Regions from separate parts of the Homo sapiens genome. Here region 2 is linked to region 1. Evidence: fine-mapped expression QTL. A gene starts in region 1. The other region holds a variant in brackets. All regions are shown on one strand. Distances are from middle to middle. Region 1 holds the start of PYGB (glycogen phosphorylase B). Region 2 has its middle 66 kb from the start of FAM182A.

Region 1 (4,392 bases):
ACTTACAGACTGTGCGGTTTAAGAGAAAGGTTTCCACCCAGAGCCACCACACGTAGACAATCAAAAGAGATCTCACGGAGGATCAAAAAACCTGTTTTGTTGCAGGGACTATCTTGTTCATGAAGGTCATTTCCGTAATCCCTGAGCCCATCGCTGGCCTCTCCAGGATGTGATTATACATAAATACTCCAATGGGCACCCTAAGGTGTAGAGCTGAGTCCTGGTCCAGCTCCAAGGAAATGCCCTTGAATGTGAAGGCAGAGCTATGTCCTTGCCATCCGCCACTTAGACAATAAAAATGATGTTGCGGGTCGGGTGCGTTGGCTCACGCCTGTAACTCCTGCACTTTGGGAGGCCGAGGCGGGCGGATCACGAGGTCAGGAGTTTGAGACCAGCCTGGCCAACATGGTGAAACCCCGTCTCTACTAAAGATACAAAAAATTAGCCGGGCGTGGTGGTAGGCGCCTGTAATCCCAGCTACTTGGGAGGCTAAGGCAGGAGAATTGCTTGAACCCGGGAGGCGGAGGTTGCACTGAGCCGAGATCGCGCCACTGCACTCTAGCTTCACGCTACAGGGCAAGACTCAGAATTAAAAAAAAAAAAAAAATGGTGCTGTGCATCAGAACTCTCCCAACAGCAGGGAATTCTGGGGGAGCCACTGCTTCTTGGCTGCTTTTCCTGGCAAAGTCATCCCAAGCCCTTGTTATAACCTGTTTTGGCCATTCGTTGCCACTTCTATGTTTTGCATACCAAATATGAAGAGCCCCAGTTGGTATTCTAACAAATCTGTCCCTTTTACCATCTCCATTTTAGAAAAAAGAATGTCCCAGAATAAGTTTGGAAAAGCAGTCAATCTCTTAGCAATTACCGTATTAAACATATCTTAATGCCCTACAAAAATATTCTAAAATACCATCCATAAAGCAAGTGCTCACTGCCTAGATGTACACTGCAAGTAAAATCTTTGCCAAGTGGCTTCAGGTCTGGAAGTGTGTCTTTTCCTCACCAGTTCTCCCTCTACGTTAGTGTAGTAGAAAGACAATTCTCCATGGTCAAGAGTTTAAAAGCAAACGACAACAACAAAAAACTGGCAACAGGGGGCTGTGCAAGACTACCATGTACCTATCAAACTGAAAACTACCATCCTATCCATTGACCTGCAAAGCTGTTTATCAGTGAAAAAGTTACAAATGTTTACGAATGAAACAGAAAATCTAAAAAACTGTATGTGCATTATACTTTTTAAAAATGTGTATGTATATTTAGGAATACCAAAAACACAGCAAGAACACAGGCCCATAGTAAACATGGTTAAGAGTAACGGGGACAATCAGTGACTTTGTTTCACTACTCAAACAAATTTTTGCAAGATATAAAAAGTAACAATTAGTAAGATGATCTCTGTCAACTTCAACCCAAGCAAATTTCTCCAAGGGAGGTGTGGGAACCTCTAAGACAGAGCCTTCTTCGAGGGCTCCATCTCCATCTCTGAGCTTCGTACCCCTCCCTGCGTGAAGCAGGCATCTTCAGTGATTTTCTTCTAAGCAGCGTACACAAAAAAAAGTCTCACAATTCCCTGCAGATTACCGAGCTCACCCCATTCCAACCCACAAGGCTGCCCAGGCCTGGTTCCAGTCCCATTTTCTCCCACAGGCTGCTGCAGGAAAACAAAGAGTGGCTGGAGGCAGGGGCGGGGAGCACCGGCTCTGCAGCCAGCGCGGAAGCGCACGGCCAGAAAGAGACCGGGAACGTCCGCCAGGCTCCCGGGCTCAGCATCATCTGCGGGGGACGGCGGACCCCGCCAGGCGCGGGCTCCCAGTGGGGCGGACCCGTGGCCGCGGCCCTGCGCAGGGGACGCCCGGGCCCCGCCGACTGCGGCTTCCAGGCGACTCCCCAGTCGGCTGTGCCTGGCCGCCGGCCGGCTAGGGGCGCAGGTAACGCCCGACGGGCCGCCCCGCAGAGACCCCCGCTGGCGCGGCTCCGGGACCGGCGCCCTCTCAGCGGGCACGGGCGCACAGGGCGGGGCAGCGCCTCACCTTGGGGTCGCGCTCGTAGTAGTGCTGCTGCGTGCGGATCCAGCGGCCCACGAGGTGGTCGCGCACCGTGTGCGCCAGCGCGAAGAAGTAGTCGCGGGGCGTGGCCACATTGCGGTCCTTGACCAGCGTGAAGTGCAAGTGCCGGTTGAAGCTCTTCCGCACCTCGGCCACGTCGCCTAGCCCCGCCAGGCCGCGCACGCTGATCTGCTTCCGCTTCTCGCTGTCCGTCAGCGGCTTCGCCATCGCGCCGGCGGAGGCGGAGGAAAAGAGATGGAGGAGGAAAGCGGCGGCACACGCGAACGCCGGGATGGTGCAGCTGCTCTGGCGCCGCTGCTCTGGCGCCCGGCACTGCGGCTCTGCGGGCGGGATGGACCGCGCCTGCGCGCCGCGCCGGGGCGGGGCCTCGGGGGGCGGGGCGGGGCCTCGGGAGGGCGGGGCGGGCGTCCAGGCTCATAGCTGAGATCTCTGGTGTAGTCCGAGGCGGCAGCGACCTGTCCACGCCACCTGAGCGTGGTGTTTGCCCCCTCGTTGGGCAAGCCCGGCAGAAAGTGGGAGCGACTGGAGGGGGCAAGGGACCCGGGGCCTCGGAGCGTGCCGTCGTGGCCGCTCCTGCCAGCCCGGGGACGGTGCGGGAAGGGGGCCCTGCCCTCCGGCCCTCGGGTTCCTGGGACCGGCCCTCCCGCCCTGCACCGGGTCACCAGGTGCCCCGCGGGAGCGCGCTGGGCTCGGGCTGTGGCCGAGACCTGGTACACGTTCGGGGAAACTGATTACAGCTTGAAAGGCATCCACCAACGCCTGCTGGGCCCGGTCTTCTCTGTCCGGGGCAGGGCGGCTCTGAAAATACCAGCTATTTGCTTGCCACTCCAGGCCGATGACAGACGTGGAGAAAACCAGCTGCCAGCGAGCTGGAGACGCCCGTTCCCGAGGGCGCGAGGCAGCCACAGCCAAATGCCACCACGACCCCGCCTCGGAGGGACCGCAGCCCCCTAGCCCTCGGAGAAACCCTGTTCCCGAAACCACCTGGCAGACGCTGTCCGCTTTGAGATTACAGCAGGGAGAAGGAAACATGCCCGTCTGGCCGGGGAGCTCAGCCACTAACCGAGACTTAGCCTCTGTCATCCCAATCCAGGCTGCAGCTCCAGATAGGGGGCGTCTGCACACAGCTTCCCACACTTGGCCCCGCGGAACACAGTCCTGCTGGCCTCAGCCTGTGGGAACCCTGCTTCATGTAAAGGTCACCTAAACTCTGCCTTCCCTCAACCCCTTCAAACTCTGCCTTTCCCTTCGTTCTTGGGAGGCGCTCCCTCATTGCAGTGGGTCAGTACACCCGATTTTGTGGACCACAGGTTTGCTCCTGGTGGTCTTGGGCTGAAGGGGCTGCAAAGGTTACTGAATTTCGTGGAGGTAAAAATTGCCCGCAGGAAATGTCATGAAAGTCCAGGTGCAGTAGGTTTCCTGGTGTGATGCTTCAAAGTTATCTTCTTACCTGGAGCCCCTTCCAGCTGCAGACTTCAGAGGTCGGAGGTTAATCAATCTGGAATGACCCCACAGCCCACCCAGCTCCAGCTCGGGATTCACTCCTGCACTATGTCCTAGGGATTCTGGAGCCAACAAGATCGAACTTCGGGCACAGATGGCAGGGCTGTGGGGTCGAGCTTGGCTGCAAGCTCCGAACACTGATGCAATCTCTCTGAGGGTGATCTGGCAATTCAGAAGTCATAAAAATGATAGTGCCCTATGACCACTTCTACCACTCTGGGGAATTGAGTTCAAGGAAAGCTTAAGAAGACAAAAAGCAAGTTATGCAAATATGTTATCTGCTGTGGTGTGGTAAAGTTTAATCCCCCAGCTGTGGTGCACACCTGGCAAAGAATGGAGGCGCTGACACTTATTGATCATTACTTGCAGTGTACACGTATTAACTCCTGATCCCTGCAAATAGCCTGCTATTACCCCCGCTTGACAATGGAGAAGGTGAGCCACAGAGAAGTTAACTCTTCCCTAAGCCCACACAGCTAATAAGGGAAACAGCCAAGGTTCACCCCAGCCAAGCCCTGCTCCACTGCACAAGCCCAGAAAAATGTATCTGTGCTCAAAGTTAATATCATAAACCATTGTGCTGCTAAAAGGAATGACTGTTTTAATAGCTAGCTAGGAAGGTGTGATTGATGACACAATACTGATAAATGAAACACAAAAATAAGGATGTAATGCAGAAATGACAGTAATGATTTGAATATTACTTTCATTTAGTCAATTTAAATTTAAATTAAATAACCACATGTGGCTAGGGACTACTGTGTTAGAAACACAGGTGTATATCCAAACCTAAACACTGGTTATTTCTGAATGGAAG
Region 2 (4,392 bases), 870 kb before region 1:
CCTTCCCCAGCCTCCCAAGTAGCTGGGATTACAGGTGCACGCCACTACACCTGGCTAATTTTTATATTTTTAGTAGAGATGGGGTTTCACATGTTGGTCAGGCTGGTCTTGAACTCTTGACCTCGTGATCCTCCCGCCTCAGCCTCCCAAAGTGCTGGGATGACAGGTGTGAGCCACCATGCCCAGCCATAATTTTCGTATTTTTAGTAAAGACAAGGTTCCACCAGGTTGGCGAGACTGGTCTTGAACTCCTGACTTCAAGTGATCCACCTTCTTCTGCTTCCCAAAGTGCTGGGATTAGAGATGTGAGCCACTGCACTTGGCTGGTTTTGAAATATATTTGTTCTTAGAAGTTGAGTGAGTGAGTGTTGTTCGGTTCAGAAAATTAGTTCAATGTAGTGCCGACATACCACAGTTCACAGTTGGATATTGTTACATTGTACTGCTGTCTTGGGACAGCGCTTTATGTAGAGGGCATCATTTTTCTTTCATTTAAGAATTATGTATTTATTATTATTTTTTGAGATAGAGTCTTGTTCTGTTGCTCAGGCTGGAGTACAGTGGCACGATCTTGTCTCACTGCAACTTCTACCTCCTGAGTTCAAGTGATTCTCATGCTCAGCCTCCTGAGTGGCTGGGATTACAGACATGTGCCACCATGCCCGGTTAGTTTTTGTATTTTTAGTGTAGACGGGGTTTCGCCTTTTTGGCCAGGCTGGTCTCAAACTCCTGGCTTCTAGTGATCCACTTGCCTAGGCCTCCCAGAGTGCTGGGATTACAGGCATAAGCCACTGTGCCTGGCCAGAATTACTTATTGAATATGTGTACCCATAGATTTATCAAATAATTATATTCTTATTAAAATTTTTCTTTCAATATCATACTTTATAAGAGGTAGGATAGTTTAACTAAAAAGCTTTTTCTTTAGCTTCCATTTGTTTCTCTGTCTTTAAGTAAGATGTCATAATGTCAAAAGAGGCTGCAAATAAAATACCTTGTCAGTGGCATTCCCCCAGATTAGATCTTAACCAAAAGGCTGAGAAGCAGTAGCTTTTTTCCCCCCAAAGGGAAGAATGCTTTAGTTTATTTTACAGGAGAAAATTCATTCCAGTACAGCACCACTCTGGTCTTGTACAAATTACCGAATTCACTTAGATAATTTCTAGTCTTTCCTCTCCTGGATGCTGGACTCAGTAATAAGTTTAGGAGGTCGGCTTTCTTTAAATTATCCCTAGGTTGGAGGATTTTAGGTGTCGGGATGCCCAGGGTGGTGGTCTTTCTTAGCCTTGTCTTGCCTAACGTAATTTTAGAATTGGTCTAGAGCTGGACAGCTTTGTGGGAACTGGTGTGACCTAATTTGCTTCAGTTTAATAACTAATATTTTAGCATTTGAATGTCATAGAGACATTGCCCTATCCCATACTTTTGTATCAGGAGGTTTTATTATTTTATCAGTTAAAAATTGCATATTTTGTAAGATCCTTTTTCTGCTTTGGTGAAATGTAGGCTTCACCTCTATTGTGACGCTTGGTGGATCTATTCTTGCTCATCTGAAGTGGCATCTGCAGTCCTGCCACTGTGAAGTACATTTTTTTCTTTTTTTTTCTTTTTTTTTTTTTTTTTTGAGATGGGGTCTCACTCTGTTGTCAATCTGGAGTGCAGTGGCACGATGCCAGCTCACTACAACCTCCGCTTCCTGGATTCAAGCGATTCCCCTGCCTCAGCCTCCTGAGTAGCTGGGACTACAGGTGTGTGCCACCATGTCTGGCTAATTTTTTCTTTTTTGTATTTTAGTAGAGATGGAGTTTCACCATGTTGGCCAGGATGGTCTTGATTTCCTGACCTTGTGATCCACTGGCCTTGGCCTCCCAAAGTGCTGGGATAACAGGCATGAGCCACTGTGCCCGGCCATTTTCAGCTTTTTTTCCAAGGTAGTTTAGGCCACCTTGAACACCTTTGCATAACATATTTTCGTTATGCAAAGGTTATGGGCCAAAAGCCAGGAGTTCCTGCTGAGAGGAAAAATTGCTTGTTTTTTGGCAGGATAGTATTTGAAATTTTGTT[G/A]TTGCAAGATTTTCCTGTTGAGTAAATATGTGTGTGTTTATTTAATATGAGAAGATTTAAAAAGGAACTTAAATAGATCAATTTCATTTTGCAATATTGTATTACCTGTTTGCAATATATAAGAGGCTAGTTCTGGGTTTATCTGTATAATTCAGTTAGAAGTGCTATTGTCTTTTATGACAGTGACATATAATTATTACTATATTATTCTCATCCTAAAACATTATGTGTTGATATGTAAGAGATGAGGAAGTTGCTCATAAAATCTTGATCAGATTTCTTAAATAATTCATAGAATTTTTTTAGTTCATGAGTCAACCATGTAACTACCCTGAGTTAATGAGTTTTGGTGCTAAGAACTGAAATCATAATTTGATACTGCCACTTAAGGTGCTCCCTTCCCCTTCAGTCTGAACTTTAGATTCTTTCATTTCAGTGGGTTTCAAATGTAAAGTATTCTGCCGAGGTATCTTAGTGAGCCAGGACTGGAGTGAAGGGTGGAGGGAGGGATGGGGAAGGGCAGGGGGAGACTGAAAAGATGAATCCTAGGTCTCCCATTCTCACTAGATCAGAATGTTTCCCCATTGTACCTTTTGTACATTTAGCTTTCATTTAAGACTTTTGAGGAAAACATTCTGGTTAAAAAACAACATCTGAGCACTCTTGCCATGTATCTCGTGGATAAGTTTTGAGGAAGGAGGTTGTAGTGGTCTCCAGGCTGCAGTTCATGAGAGGACAGGAAGGGCTTGCTTTGACCTGTAAATTTGTATGCCAGTAGGGGCTAATTTCCTGATTTTGCTAGTGTTTTTACTTTTTTTTTCCTTCTGTATTGGGCGAACAGTACTTTTAAATAAAACTGACTTTTTTGGTTTTTTTTTTGAGATAATAATGTTAAACTCCATTAAAGTCATACCACAAAACTAGGACAACAGGAAGGATTACTGAGATGAGGGAAAAAATGGAGAAGTCACTTAACTTGTGACTTTGAGAGACATTGAGTGTAATTGTTGAACTCAGGACTCACCATAGCTGAAAGTTAAACAATGTGCATTAAAAAATTGTACCTCATGGGTTTCTAATCATTTAGGCCACTGTTAGAAAAAAATGAGATGACCCTGGGTTAAAATCTTTTTTTTTTTGACTCTGCATTCCATTTATAGCTTTATTTATTTGGGATGTCTGAGTTGGGAGGAGAGTGCAGAGATAGATCACTTAAAGCATGTTTTAGGACAGCAGATCAGAATTAGTTGGACAACTTTTATAAAATGCATGAACGTTCATATAGTGAAATACTCTTTTGTTTTTGGACAGAGTTTCATTCTTGTTGCCCAGGCTGGAGTGCAACGGCATGATCTCAGCTGACTGCAACCTCTGCCTCCTGGGTTCAAGTGATTCTCCTTCCTCAGCCTCTTGAGTAGCTGGGATTAGAGGCATGTGCCACCATGCCTGGCTAATTTTTGTATTTTCAGTAGAGACGGGGTTTCAGCATGTTGGTCACGCTGGTCTCGAACTCTCAACCTCAGGTGATCCACCTGCCTCAGCCTCCCAAAGTGTTGGGATTACAGGCGTGAGCCACTGCGCCTGGCTCATAGGGTGAAATACTCTTTAGCAATAGAAAGAACCATAGATGCATGAGAATAATTGCCAAGATATATGTATTTTTTTTGGGGGATGCAGTCTCGCTCTGTCGCCCAGGCTGGAGGTTGGTGATGTGATCTCGGCTCACTGCAAGCTCTGCCTCCTGGGTTCTTCCCACCTCAGCCTCCTGAGTAGCTGGGACTACAGGCGCCCACCACCGTGCCCAGCTAACTTTTTTGTATTTTTAGTAGAGATGGGGTTTCACCATGTTAGCCAGGATGATCTTGATTTCCTGATCTTGTGATCCACCTGCCTCAGTCTCCCAAAGTGCTGGGATTACAGGCGTGATCCACCACGCCCAGCCTACCAAGATATATTAAGTAATAAAAGCAAGATACAGAACAGTGTGTTTCTAGTATGCCACTATTTACATAGGGGAAAAAGTGTGAGTGTATGTATGTGTAGGATATTTCTAAAGGACACTCTAGAAACTAGTAACTTTGGTTGCCTTCTGGGAGGGTAAATGGGTAGCAGCTGGAGGAGAAGGGTGAGGAGATTTTTCACTTTGTATTCTGTGGTACTTTTAAAAACTCTTAAGTCCTGCATATAATGTTTATTTCCAAAAAGATCAACCCTCCCCACAATGCCACATGTTGGCTTTTCCCCTTCCACCTGAAGCAGTTGCAGATGTATAGATGAGGAGACAGCTCCTCAGGTGGTTTTAATGTGTGGTCTCACTGAACATCTCAG

What was found. PIP is the estimated chance that this variant, and not a neighbour inherited with it, causes the effect. A credible set is the group of variants that fine-mapping cannot tell apart.
Region 2: its variant is the best candidate, but not a certain one, in a credible set for the expression of PYGB in whole blood (INTERVAL, PIP 0.54).

Annotation. Positions count from the first base shown.
Region 1 is chr20:25,246,066-25,250,457 of GRCh38, reverse strand. It overlaps PYGB (glycogen phosphorylase B), which reads right to left and starts at 2,373. Exons shown (of 20, transcript NM_002862.4): 1 at 2,037-2,373. The coding sequence starts at 2,279. RefSeq lists silencers at 1,730-2,109, 2,420-2,609, 2,620-2,809, 2,990-3,069, 3,088-3,341 and an enhancer at 2,260-2,339.
Region 2 is chr20:26,118,683-26,123,074 of GRCh38, reverse strand. No RefSeq gene overlaps it. Among named protein-coding and RNA genes, the nearest start is that of FAM182A, 66 kb to the right of the region's middle. The variant G/A (reference allele first, on the strand shown) is at 2,065.